Homo sapiens: one gene and its partner. The protein of the gene in region 2 interacts with the protein of the main gene of each other region in a pairwise test. Each region holds a gene or a part of one and is shown on either strand. Other genes may lie near its edges.

Region 1 (9,124 bases), on a different chromosome or scaffold from region 2:
CCCTGGATAGCTGGGATATCCCTTTTGCAGTCTTCGGGAATGGCGTAACTCTACACTCTTAAAAAATTATTTAAAATTTATCTGAGCTGGTCACAAATTCTACCCTAGAGGATGCTGCAATAATTATTATATAAGGTACAGATACTACAGATGCATAATTGGCAGAAACCAGGCTATTACATGTAAAAGCATACCATTTCAAAGTATGTCACATTGAAAGCGCTGACAAACAGTCTGATTTCTTCATTTTGAAATATTGGCTCCAAAGTCCCTTAGAACTATTTTAAATCATTTGGGCAAGCATTGACATTGAATGCTCATTTTGAAGTGTTTGCAAAGGTGTAACAATTATATAAACCGTTTCTTAATAGTGTGTTAATTAAAGAATAGGGCTAGGTTAACCTTAAATTCAAAGGTAGCTAATCTTATGTCTATTATATTTAAATATTAAATATATTAATTTATTAATATATTTATTTTAAATATATTTCTTGTTTTGGGTGTGTAAATAGGTCATTTGATTGACTTTCTCTTAGACTTCCTAAGGTTTTATAGTAAATGCCATCACATTAATAGCATTAGCTTAATGATTAAGATTAACAAGTTCTTAATGCATCTCAAGAGTATCTATGAGTATATATTACAGGTATTAATATATGCATATTTACATGTACACATACATTTTTACATTCACATATACATGTGTATTATGGAGCAGGATTTCTTTTACTCAAGCCTGGATATATGCACAGAAAAGAACTCTCTACTTTTCATATTAATAAAAGCTGACTCTATATAATCAAATTACTTTAGAAAATAAGTAAAACAAAAGATTATGTCTTCTTGAATCTACATAATTGAAACATTAGGGTGGCTCTTTTTCTCTTCATTTGTCTAAAGGAATTTGCCTGTGCATTTTGCAGTAATAGTTACGTATTTTATTTGATTAATTACCTGAAGTCAGCATCCTGGTCATGGTTTATTCTTTTTTGCTACTGTTTTTGAATTTTCAAAGACAGCTTAATTTTGCAAAGATTTTTTTTCCTCCAGTCAACTACTAGAATCTACTAAACTATTAAAATCTCTACTGCTACAGAAAGCATTCATTTTTTAAAAAATCAAAGCCTTAGGAGAAATATTGCACAAATTATAGAAATCCCCTATCTTTTCACTAGCTTTATAAGCCATATAAAATATTGCAATGGAGAAAGAAAAAGAAACACATTTAGTAAGGTCAACATAACCTCCATTATTTATCCAGGACCCAATTTTATTTTGTGCTTTAAAGCCAATATTTTGTGTGTTCTATTACTACAATGTAACTTTTCCATTACTTTTTGTCCTATTAGTATCAACTTACTTTTAAAAATTTAATAAAATGTTAAAGGAACCTACTACAGAGTTTCTCAGAATTAGAGTTCCATTTTTGAAAAGATAGCCATGCATTTCTAAAATACTGCACCAATTCTATTAAAGTAATTTTATTTAATCTGCTTTTATGTTTAATTATATACAATTAGTGGAAAATATGTTGCCATTTAATTACACTGTCATCTTCCCCACCCTGCTATGATCTGTTTCCTTCCAATGAGTACTGATAGTTCTCTTATGCTGGTTTTGATTAAGCTGTGTCTTAATTAAAGCTGTCATTCTAGGAATCCCAAAAGTGGAAGTTATCTTTGTAGCATAAACTTTTTAAAAAAAATTTTATCCATGCAACTACTTCCAAGTCCTTTTCTTCCTTTCCGCCTTCTCCAAACTTCCTAACATTTCTGCTGTGGGTCAGAGATCAAGGGCTCTCCAAGCTAGTATGGAAAGGGAAGAGGGGGCCTTACCTTCACAATGTAGTCAGCCACCCGGCTGTATTTGTAGCGAATGAAGACGCCCAACCCGATAGGTATGAGAGTGCTGCAGAGAGTCAGGGTCACGGTCCCTAGGGGTAGTAACTGCACGATAGGGGTGTTGATCCAAGCCCAGCTGTAGATCCACAGGCACAGGGGCATCAAGACGAGGGCCAGAAGCGTGGAGGAGATGGTCATGATGATGCTGCAGAAAAGGGAATGTGCAGAAATCAGAACGAGCTTTGAGTCAAACAGCCAGCTAACCTTTTTCTTGTATGTTGAGTAGAGGTGGAACGGGGAGACTGCAAGTCCCGGGGTTGAAGTCTGGGCAGAACCTACATCCGAGGAGAGTGCCAAGAGAGCAGCACGTCTAACACCGATGGAATTATGAACCCAAGGCAGGGAGGAAAAACAAGCCCCCTGTCTCGGTACTGCTGCCCTCGACATTATAAAGTCTATTGAGCCTGGATGATTCTGAGGGGAAGGAACGTTCTTCCTTGCAAGCCCCCTGCAAGGTAAGCCATGGTAAAGCTGCTGACTGCTACTTGTTGGTCGGACTCAACAATCCTGCACTCTATGTGAGATTACTTTCTCTGACGGGCCAGTAGCCCTATTTTACTTTTACGTTGCCGGCGAGTTCTAGTTCAGACTCCCCCTTCTCTTTGTCTTCCACTGGACAACGACCTGCGCTGCCACCCCGACGCTCGGGGAGGACGGCGAGGGACCCTGCTGAAGGGCCGCGCTGCGCATGGAATCCCAGCCTTGGAGCAGCTCCCTCGCCGTCTAGCTTGCTCCCCTAGCAGCACAACCTGCAGGTCGGCCTTGACTTCTAAAGCCGGGGCGTCATCAACTTCCTCTCCTTTTCTCCTCCTTCCTCCACGCCTAATTCCAACCCCTCCACTGCCTCTGTCCTTCGTCGTGAGCCCACGGCCGTAAACGCGCGTCTGGGATGAGACAGATGCCCAAGGAATAGACAGATCCGTACCTGAGGTTCATGTCGCCGTCAACCAGCAGGGACATAAGATTGGAGAGATTGCCGCCGGGACAGCAGCCACACAGGAGCACCGCCACGGCGGCCACCTCGTCCAGCTTGAAGGCGAGGGCCAGCAGGAAGGCCAGCAGCGGCAGGAGGCCGAACTGGCAGAGCGCTGCCAGCAGCGCGCCCACGGGCCGACGGACGTGCGCCCCGAAGTGGTTCACGTCCACCGTGCAGCCCAGGCCCAGCATGGTGATGCACAGGGCGGCGCCCACGAACACGTTCAGCCCGTGGTTCAGCGGCGTGTCCCAGAACGGGAGCGCGTGGGGCGCCCAGGGCCGAGGGAACGGGGAAGGGCCGTGGCTCGCCGCGCCGCCCGCGAGGCCGCTGGTCGTGGGCTCCGGGGTCGGAGTGGGGCCGGGGCTGAAGCCGAAGCTCGGACCCGGCCCGAGGCTGAGCCCAGGGCCGGGGCCGGCGCTGGAGGCAGGGGCGAGGGCGAGGTCCGTGCCGGGGCCCAGGCTGCTGGCATTGGGCGCCAGGGTGTAGTTGTCCCGCAGCAGAGGGGCGAAGAGCAGGGTCACGTTGTCGTTGCCGTCCATGGCGCGGCCGGAGCTGCGGATTCCGGTCCCCTCCCGCCGCGTGCCTCTCGCCGTCCCGCGGTCGCCGCAGTCGCCGCCCGTCGTTCTGCCCGTCGGTCTCCGAGCCCCGGCTGCGCGCCGCTGACGTGCTCGGCGGCGTCGGGGGCGGCGGGCCGGTCTCCGCTCCCAGGTCTGCAGCCGCCCGCAGCCTGGCACTCCGCGCAGCGCGGCCCCCCGGGTGAACCCAATCGCTGCGCCGGCTCCGCGCCGCGGCCCCGCGCCCCGCAGGCCCCGCCCCGCCCTGCCGCCCGGTCCCCTCCTGTGAATCGCCAGTAAGTGGTTCTGTTATCGAGTGTAGCCAGGGGCGGAACAAAGACCTGACAAAGGACCAGAGCAGGAAAAAACCGTTCCTGGCTGCCGATCAAGTTCTCTGATGGGCTCTGCCTCTTTATAATGAAATCTGGAGACCCAGACACACAAAGTGGAGGGGGCGGGTGGATAACCTCATCGATGCACGCTCATGGCAGAAACTGTTCCTATAGCCTGCAGCCCTAAGAGGGGTGCTTGACTTAATATGAGCGATTCTCTAGTAAGCAGGACACGATATCTGGCTTGAATTTGCAAACAATTTTTTGCATGATTTTCAGTCTTAAAGTAGAATGTAATAATAATATAGCGGGTTTTGTGCAAGTGCGTGTGCATTATTTCATTCGATTCTTACAGCAAAGCCGTGAGATAGATACCATTTTTACAAGCTCGATTTTTACAAACGAGGAAACTGAGGAACGAGGAATTCTCAGTCTTATCAACCGAACCCACAAGTACCTGGCTGAATCTGCACGGCGATGTGTCCCTAAAGAGGGCAGAGAAGAGCTTGGCTAATAACAATTTCCATGAAAAATGTGTGTTTAAGAAGTTATTGGCAGGTGGAGAGAGGATATTTCAGTGGCCACAGATTTACGAAGCTTTATGAGTAAGGCCCTGGCATTAGGATTAAAGGACTGAAAAGAAATAAAGTGCTGAGATTCCCTGCTTGAGACAGGTTTATCCCAAAACAATTCAAAAGCAGAGCTCTTAGGAATGGAGATGCAACAACTTTTAAGTCAGTCACTAGATGGCATGTAGAAAGGAAAATAATTTCGCTGCTTACCAACCAGGTGGGGCCTGTTAAGGAGGCATCTAGCTCCCTGGGGGTGACCATAAAGTGATAGTCAGTTGAGTTGTAAAAACCAACAGGAATTTCTAGAATGAAATCAAGGCTCAGTCTTAGCCCAGGGTTGCTTTCACAAGGAGCCAAGATATAGTGAATTCTTCTATCTGGGAACTTTTCCCTAACTCCTGTCCTGGCACAGAGTGACTTCTATTACCCAAGGGTGGGCTGAGCCTTTCCTCCTCCCCAAATCTCATGAAGATGATGGAGACTATGAAAAGTAAGACTTTGCAAATGCAAAGCATATTGCACTCTTCATCACAAATAATTTATTTTTTCTCTTTTGGACTGTAAATTCCACGAGGGCAGAGCTTTTGCAAGAATCTAGGAGGATAATGTACCCTTACACTTTTCCAAAACACTAAACCCAGAAAAAAAAACTTCAGTGAGCTAAACTTTAAAGGAAGTGGGTTGTGACCAAAAATATTTTAAGTTGACATGTCACCTTATGTAGGTAAAAAGAAAGATATTCAGATATACAATGATCCATGCTACCCAACCGTTACATTAGTAGACCCAGGGAAGATGTGTGGAGAAACAGACAAGATAAGGAGGGAAGGCACTGCTGAGCCTTCACAGTCTTGAAACCACAGAATGAGATAAGCCAAGAACACAAATGGCAAGGGATCCAGCTGAAGCCAACTGTGCAGGCACCACTCCTATTTGCCTCAGAAACCCTCATCATGTTAATGATATTAAAATTCACAATCACATTAAATAAGCAGTAATTAGAGGCAGACCAACTCAACTCATCCAACTACCTCCTCTCAGGGTTTAGGGAGGGACTTGGGCGGCAACTTGTGCAATGGGCGAAGACTGAAAACAGAAAGGGGCCTGGCATCATGGCTTTTGTCTGCAATCCCAGCAATTTGGGAGGCTGAGACAGGTGGATCACTTGAAGACAGGAATTCGAGACCAGCCTGGCCAACATGGTGAAACCCCATCTGGACTAAAAAGACAAAAATTAGTTGGGTATGGTGGTGTGTGCCTGTAGTACCAGCTACACAGGAGACTGAGGCAGGAGAATTGCTTGAACCTGGGAGGTGGAGTTTGCAGAGAGCCAAGATCGTGACACTGCACTCTAGCCTGGATGACAGACTGAGACTCCATCTGAAAAAATAAAAAAGAAGGGGATGATGGGCTGCGATTGTAAATCATGGGGCATGTTGCACCTGCAATCTTGGGGGATTCTTGGGACCTACACACCTGATGTCACTCCTGCTGATGGGGTGATTGTCATTGTAAAGAAAACAGGTGCTCTGGCCTCCCCTTCTTTCTCATCTTCCTCACTATGTATGAGAAAACCCCAGGATTAGGTTTAAGCCCATTCTCCAGGTGTGATGACACTGGTGTGGTGACACTGGTGAAGTGAAGTATTCTTTTCCCAAGGGGGAAACAATATGTAAAAGGGAGAGATAACATAGTACTTAGAAAATATGGCCAGGCATGGGGCTCACGCCTATGGGAGGCCAAGGTGGGCAAATCTCTTGAGCCCAGGAACTTGACACCACCCTGGACAACATGGTGAAACCCTGTCTCTACAAAAACTACAAAAATTGGCCAGACATGGTGGCGCATGCCTGTGGTGGCATATGCCTGTGGTACCAGCTATTTGGGAGGCTGAGGTGGGAGGATCGCTTGAGCGCAGGAGGGCAAGGCTGCAGTGAGCCATGACCATGCCACTGTACTCAGGCATGGGTGACAGCAAACCGTGTCAAAAAAAAAAATTAAGGAAGGAAGGAAGATGAAATTAAGCTAGCTATTTGGGGAAAAATAAATTTAGAGCTTTGTGGCACAGTGTATACCAAAGCTAATTCCAAGTAGATTAAAGGGTTAACTATTATAATAATAATAATGCAACAAAATACTAGAGAAAAAGATTGGCAAGTGTTTATCTCATCTTTGGATATGGAAAATTTTTCTAAGCAAAAAAGTAACAGAAGAAATCATAATGGGGAGCTCAGTAGATATGGATACATAAAAACTTTCAACTTTGTTATAGTAAAAACATCATTTAAGAAATTAAGAGAAAATTTATGATTAATTTATAAGTTTTATTGTGTTATTTTATAGGAAAAGAGGCAAATGACATGAATAGACACAAGATCACAAAAGAGATGCAAGCAGCCAACATGTTTATGAAAATAGTCACATTCACTAGTATCCAGAGCAATTAAATTGAAGCAATTAGATGCCATTTTTCAGTACTGGAAAAGATTCAGATATATGCTATTATGTTACAGTGGCAAGGATACAATCAATTTGGATATATCCTACCATAGAAACAATCATGGAAAGAGAGCACCTACTTCCAGGAGTTCTCATAAAAGTCCTGGGGTTAACTTGGGATTAATAAGGGAGAACTATTGTACACTAATGTTTGTTTTGGCCACTTTTCTTGAAAGGAAGCTAGGAGGCTTTTTAAGAGTAGAAGCATTTAAATTTAAAAATTAAATAGAAAATAGGCAAGAGAAGTGTACCCATCCTTCAACCAATCATTGTGGCCATAGGATGGAATGCTTTCACTCAAGCAAGGGAGTGGTCTCATCCCCACTCAAGACACATCAACTCAAATTTGGGGAAGGGATTCCTCAGAGGAATAGTGGGTGCTGTTAACAGAAAGAGGAAAAATGGATGTTGAGTAGGCAGAAAAGCAATAAGCATACACAGAAGTTGTATTCAGTACCTCAGCACCCTCAAAGGTGTTTGAGGGCTTCTTCCATTGCATTTCCAGAAGTAAGTACTGCTACCTTAAGAATCTTTGTCAATATGCTGTTTTAAAAGTTTCATATTTTGTGCTTATTTAACTACTAGTGAAATAGAACTTTTTCAGTTTAATAATAAAAATACTTTATTATAAATTATGTATTTTGCCTATTTACAGAAATCATCTGACTTGCAGACAATTTAAGTACAACGTATAAGACTGGTAGAAGAAAAATTAGAAACAACCTAAGTATCCAACAATATGCAACTGGTTGAGTAAATTGTTTTTTATTTACATAATAGAATAAATACTATGCAACTATTTTAAATTTTCATGTTATATTTTTATGTGAAAAAAGCAAGTTATGTACCGTTTTATGTTGATTTCTTTCTTTTGTATTTTGTTAGAAAAAATTTTTTTAGAGATGTTACATTGTCCAGGCTGGAGTGCAGTGGCTATTCATAGGCATGTAGGCATGGTCATAGCAGACTGCAGGGTGGCTCTTGGCCCCAGTTTCTTTAAAAGTATTTATATAGTTGCATTCAAAAAGACTGGGCCAAAATATATTGGATTATGGAGGATTTTTGCATTCCTTTTTGTTGTCTTTTCTTTTTTCTTGAGACAGGTCTCCTTCTGTTGCCCAGGCTGGAGTACAGTGTCATGATCTTGGCTCACTGCAACCTCCGCCTCCCGGGTTCAAGCGATTCTCCTGCCTCAGCCTTCCGAGTATCTGGGGTTACAGGTGCCTGGCATTAGTGACCAATGGGTAGGTAGTGTAGACAGGCAGCCATTAGTCACTGAGTAGGCAGGCTCAGTAATCAGATCAACTGTCTCAGTATTCCAGTGCTTGTGTTCAATTAATATTTCATTTAATAATGGCCCCAAAGTGCAACAGTAGTGATGCTGGCATATTGTCATAATTGTCCTATTTTATTACCAGTTACTGTTGTTAATATTTTACTGCAACTAATTTATAAATTAAACTTTGTAAGAGGTATGTATTTATAGAAAAAACATAGTAGATATATATAGGGTTCAGTACTACCCACAGATTCAGACATCCACTGGGGTCTTAGGACATATTCCCTGAGGATAAGGGGGGACTATTGTACAGACATGTTTGTTTTGGCCACTTTTGTTGAAAGGAAGCTGGAAGGTTTGCTTTTAATAGAGATCCGTCAAACAGGAGAGCTGACTGGAACATTGTTCTTAGCTGATTTGTATCTAAAAGCAACATGGCCTGTTGATTATACTTGCTTTATATAATTAAGTCTATTTTACAGAATAAAAAAGTCCATTTCTAACAACATTAATTACTCTTTAATAACTAACTAATGATGGATAAAACGAAAGATTATTTTCTGTGTCCAAAAAGTATGCCACTCTTAAAACACTTACTAATTCCCAATATTACATTTATACACTTGGCACAAAAGTCTGGATACTCCAAATCAGTGAGGGCCTGGCTTGTCTGCTCATGGTGAACTCAAGCATATTAAAACCTGCTCAGGAATGTCTGGGTGGCCTGGTGGACCAGCCAGGCAGAGGTCATATTTATGGAAGCCTCACTGGTAGAGTTGTTAGACATAGCAAATAAAAATACAAGACATCCAGTTACATTTGAATTTCAGATGAACAACAAATACGTTTTTAGTAAAAAGATGTTTCAAATATTTCACCTGGCAATCTTACCTGGAGACGGATGATTGTTAGAAAACTGAGATGGCATGGTGGCCTCCAGGGGCTAAGATCTCCATGCATTTAGGAAATAAACCCTAAATTCCAATAAATATACTAGGTGGGCAAAGAGGA
Region 2 (4,492 bases):
ATTGGAATGTCTACTTTCTTACACAACACATGTGTGTGTATACACTTATCCATATGTGTGTGTGTGTATATATATATTACGTAATATATATATAATGGAAGTTATTCATGTAGACCTCAATTTTTCTGAAGATACATGTGCACGTGTGTGTGGGTACACACACACACACACACACACACACACACACACACACACACATACACAGCTATAAAATACTAGGATTTGGTCCTTAAGTAACATCTGAATCACGAAAGATTCATTAACTGGTAAAACCACATTTGGTACACATAAATATTTGGTAGTCAAACTATCTGATTAAGCAGAATAGTTCATTCATTTCCTGCCAATGTGAGAAAGCTATTAATTGTGTATGACTGTAAAACTTACCATAGTACTTCTGGAAATTTCACAGATGATAAAAAAGCAAAAAAAAACAAAAACAAAAACAAAACAAAACAAAACACAAAAAACTCACCATAGGTAACTAGTAGAGCAGCTAGATTAATCTTTGAATAATTCATGGCAAGAGAGGGTTAACAATATTAATGTCCTGGAATGAATTTGTGTACTTCAAACAACAAAGCAGGGCTAGGAATAGTTAGGAGATTTAAGAAACACATAGACTAGCTGCACATGCAACAATTTAAAAATTAGGAGGTTCTGGGATGGGCGTGGTGTCTCACACCTGTAATCTCAGCACTCTGGGAGGCCGAGGCAGGCAGATCGCTTGAGTTCAGGAGTTCAAGACCAGCCTGGGCAACATGGTGAAACCCCGTCTCTACTAAAAATACAAAAAATTAGCCGGGCGTGGTGGTATGCACCTGTAGTTCCAGCTAGTCTGGAGGCTGAGGTGGGAGAATCGCCTTGAACCCAGGAGGTGGATGTTGCAGTGAGCCGAGATCACGCCATTGCACTCCAGCCTGGGTGACAGAGGAGACTGTCTCAAAACAAAACAAAACAAAACAAAACAAAACAAAACAAACAAACAAACAAAGGAGGTTCTTTTTGGGCCAAGGCTTTCAACCAGCTATAAATGAGAGGGAAAGCTACAAAAAGCAAAATCTCTGGAATTAGTGTTTGCGACTATAACAGAAGGGGCACCTTTGAGTGTACACCATGTAGAAGAATCTGTGGGGCTGTGATATGGTGTTTTCAGTTACAATTACTCATTACTGACTTTATGCATGGGACTAAATGAAAAAATAGAGCTAAAATTTGCGATTGGTGGCTATCCAGAATCAATAAAATAATTAGATAGTTATCATTGTTTGGATCCTAAGTTTTACCACCAGAGATTCTAAGCTTTAGATTTTACATAGGTCCATATTAGGATTTAGAATACTCAAAATTGTTTTGGTTGTTTTATCTTTTAGCTGTAACACAAATTTTACTATGGAAGTTTTTAATATTTTATTTTTAACCAGTCCTTGACTATTTTAGAGAACTATGCGTGTTCATTCTTAATCATTAAGAATATTAGGTCACTAACCTGCTTTAAACATTATTAATGAATTCTTCCCCAAATAGAAGCCAGTTGTTTCCTTTCTTAGCCATTAACACAATGTTGTCAAGAAATTTATTATCTTGGAAATGTCTTCCAATAGGTAGTTTTCTTCATTGGAAAAAGTTTACATTACTATGTTTTCTATCTACTAACAGAGTGATCAAAGCGTGGAGAAACTGATTCCCTGGGAAGAGATGACTTGTTGATGTGCAGATTGGTAATCTATCTGTAAATGAGCAGGGGTTTTTTCCACACAGGCTGAAGAGATACACAACAGACCATCCTTACAACATATATCTTTAATTAAATTTATATTGGTGGGTTTAAAAAACATTAAGTCAGGAGATGATAGCTAGGGAAATAAGGTATCCTGTGAGTATTTATAACAAAATATTTAAAATTTAAAAAGAATAAGAAACATCAATTGGCTTTTTGTAACTTAAAAGAGACTAACCAAGTGTTGTTTCCCAGTTCTGTACAAGCAGAGGCCACAGGAGGATTCTTACATAAGAAGCACAGGGAAAAGAATTGTTAATTCTGCGTGTGTGTTTTTGTTTCTCAGAATTGTTTGGAAGAACTTTGTCCAGTCAGAAATGAGTAAAAACAAGATGTAAGAAACATTAAAACAGGGGGCATATGGTCTTAAGAGATAATCTTGGAGAATATAGCAAAAGACAAATTGCTCCATTAGATATTATAATTTGGTATGTAACATGAACATTTAAAATTCTGATTAAAGTGACTAAAAGGGTTTGTTTTTTAAAAAAAATCAAAACAGAACTTACGGGATAAAACTCAAAATAAATTTACTCTCAGTAGTAACTTGATGTAGGAATATAAGTCCTCTCACTTTGATAAACATGAATATAAAATATTGCTGTCTGTATTCTAGGGTTTCCTACATTTTCTGTAAAGAGTGATTCATGCTATGTCATATGTAAATGACTCAACATTTTGAGCTAAAAGGCTGTTCACAATATACACATTCTTTACTTACAAAGCAAAATAAGCTTAACACCTTTATATTAAAAACCCGGGATACAGCAGGATTAGTAGCACCGTGAAAAATAATTCTTCCCACAAACTGCAGTCTTTTATTTTACTCAATGTGACTCTTCTCTTAATTGAATTTTTAATGTACCATTTTAGTAACTGGGCAAAATATATAATTTTCATCTTATAATTCTTGGAGAAAGTCATTCTGGACCCAAAAAGTAAATTCACTTCCTTATTTCTTTAGTAGAAAAATAATAGAGACTTTGCTCTGGCGCATTGCTGAGGTACATCTGAATCTTCATGGTTACTAGTCAGCATGTTATCTTGATCATATATAGTAGCACCATTGACGGCAGCAGTAGTAAAGTTGGGGACAATGAGACACTGCATCCTAGGAATTTTATATATATATATATCACATTTTAAAACACAAAAGGAATTCTTCAAAATGTTATGTCCTCTTCATGCACACTTGACATCGGCTAATTCGTGTCCTCAAGTCTCCTGCTTTCAGCGTTTCTGACTGAGGTTTACTGGGAAATAAGAAATAAGACAATCAGATCCACATTTTCTGGTATTTCAATTCTGTTACTGGTTCAAATTTATAACTAAACATTTTTTGTGTGTTAAGTAGCTCTCTTGGTGACTTAATGGTTTACTTTTCAGCAATATGATCTAATGCAGTGACTAGTATGGTTTAAGAGCCATTAGTGGTCATAGATATTTTGTAACGATTCTCCCCACCACTATTATCTTTGTATATTTGTGTTTCCCTCTCATTTTCTATCTTTTTCTCTTTCTCTCATACATTTTTCTAATATTCACAGGATGAGGGAAATCTGGGCAACTGATGATGTTATGATAGATAACAAGGACCATAAGAAAAATACCAAGTAGTGATAACCCAAAAGCAACACATAAAAATAAATTTAAACTGAAAAAAATCAACAGAATGAAGTATCCTGAGGTACATACATTACGTATGTCTTGCTCATTCAAACCCTTAAATGAGAATCTTTAAAATATCCTGGGAAAGGAGACCACTGGACTGAGAGGGAAAAGACAGACTGTAACTTCAATTCCTGGGGTGGTCTCAATCTAGTTGAACAGCTGCTGACTTATTAGGAAGGTCACATAACCTTTCTTTATCTCTGTTTCATTATTGAAGGATTACTACTAAGCTATCACAAACCAAACTCACCTAATATTAATAATCAAGTCTGTTTTTCTGACCTGAGTCATGTATATGAGAAGAACAAGCAAGAATAAAGTACACAATCCAATAAATTCCTAACATTTGTTGAGGATAAACCATCCATAAATTGTCTCTTTCTTCCCTAGCATCTCTGAAGGAAGCTTTGGACCTGAATTAAAGCTATAAGCACTTTACCTGAACATGTCTGACACATCTACAGTTGCCAGCCAAAAGCTGTAGGAGTTGGCATAGTAGTTACAGGTACCCCTCCCATGACATTCGATGAAGGGAGCTGAACGAAACTCTTCCAAGCAGGAACCAGGGGAGGCTAGGGCTTGACCTGAGCCTTCTGCCCCTGCACTTGTATGCTATAAAAGACAAGGAAAAATGTGCCGCAATACCCATGTGCCATAATAGCTTAGTGAATATCCAAAGATGTGTGCTGAGCTTGGCCAAATTCAAATCTAGTGAAGGAACAGGCCCAGAGGTAAGACAATAGTATCCACACCAAGGGTAGTCAAAAAAAAGTAATAGGCAGATTATGAAAATATGTTACAAAAAATGTGTGAGGGGGAACACAGTGCTTGGATAGAAGCTGTTTGAAGTTTAAGCTTCTTATTATGCAAATGACAGGGATTCCTCATATTGGGAAGAAATGTAGATGGAATGGACAGTCAGCTATGATGACAAATGCAAGGAAGAGTGTAAAATACCATCATGAAGGAATAACCAATCCACAGAGAATCCCATCCCTGAGGACAATGGGGAATCTGGATCGTCTGACTGTGAACTGCGAT

Evidence for each region. The genes of interacting proteins can lie anywhere in the genome.
Region 1: the proteins of COL4A5 (region 2) and SLC10A4 interact in binary tests that used the Homo sapiens proteins (3 or more experiments, as listed by UniProt).

Annotation. Positions count from the first base shown.
Region 1 is NC_000004.12:48,477,854-48,486,977, reverse strand, and holds the start of SLC10A4 (sodium/bile acid cotransporter 4), read right to left. Parts: upstream 3,636-9,124; 5' UTR 3,417-3,635; coding exon 2,827-3,416; intron 2,047-2,826; coding exon 1,836-2,046; intron 1-1,835. UniProt on the Homo sapiens protein: Transporter for bile acids.
Region 2 is NC_000023.11:108,694,838-108,699,329, reverse strand, and holds the end of COL4A5 (collagen alpha-5(IV) chain isoform 2 precursor), read right to left. Parts: coding exon 4,409-4,492; intron 4,064-4,408; coding exon 3,891-4,063; intron 3,034-3,890; coding exon 2,952-3,033; 3' UTR 1,785-2,951; downstream 1-1,784. UniProt on the Homo sapiens protein: Type IV collagen is the major structural component of glomerular basement membranes (GBM), forming a 'chicken-wire' meshwork together with laminins, proteoglycans and entactin/nidogen.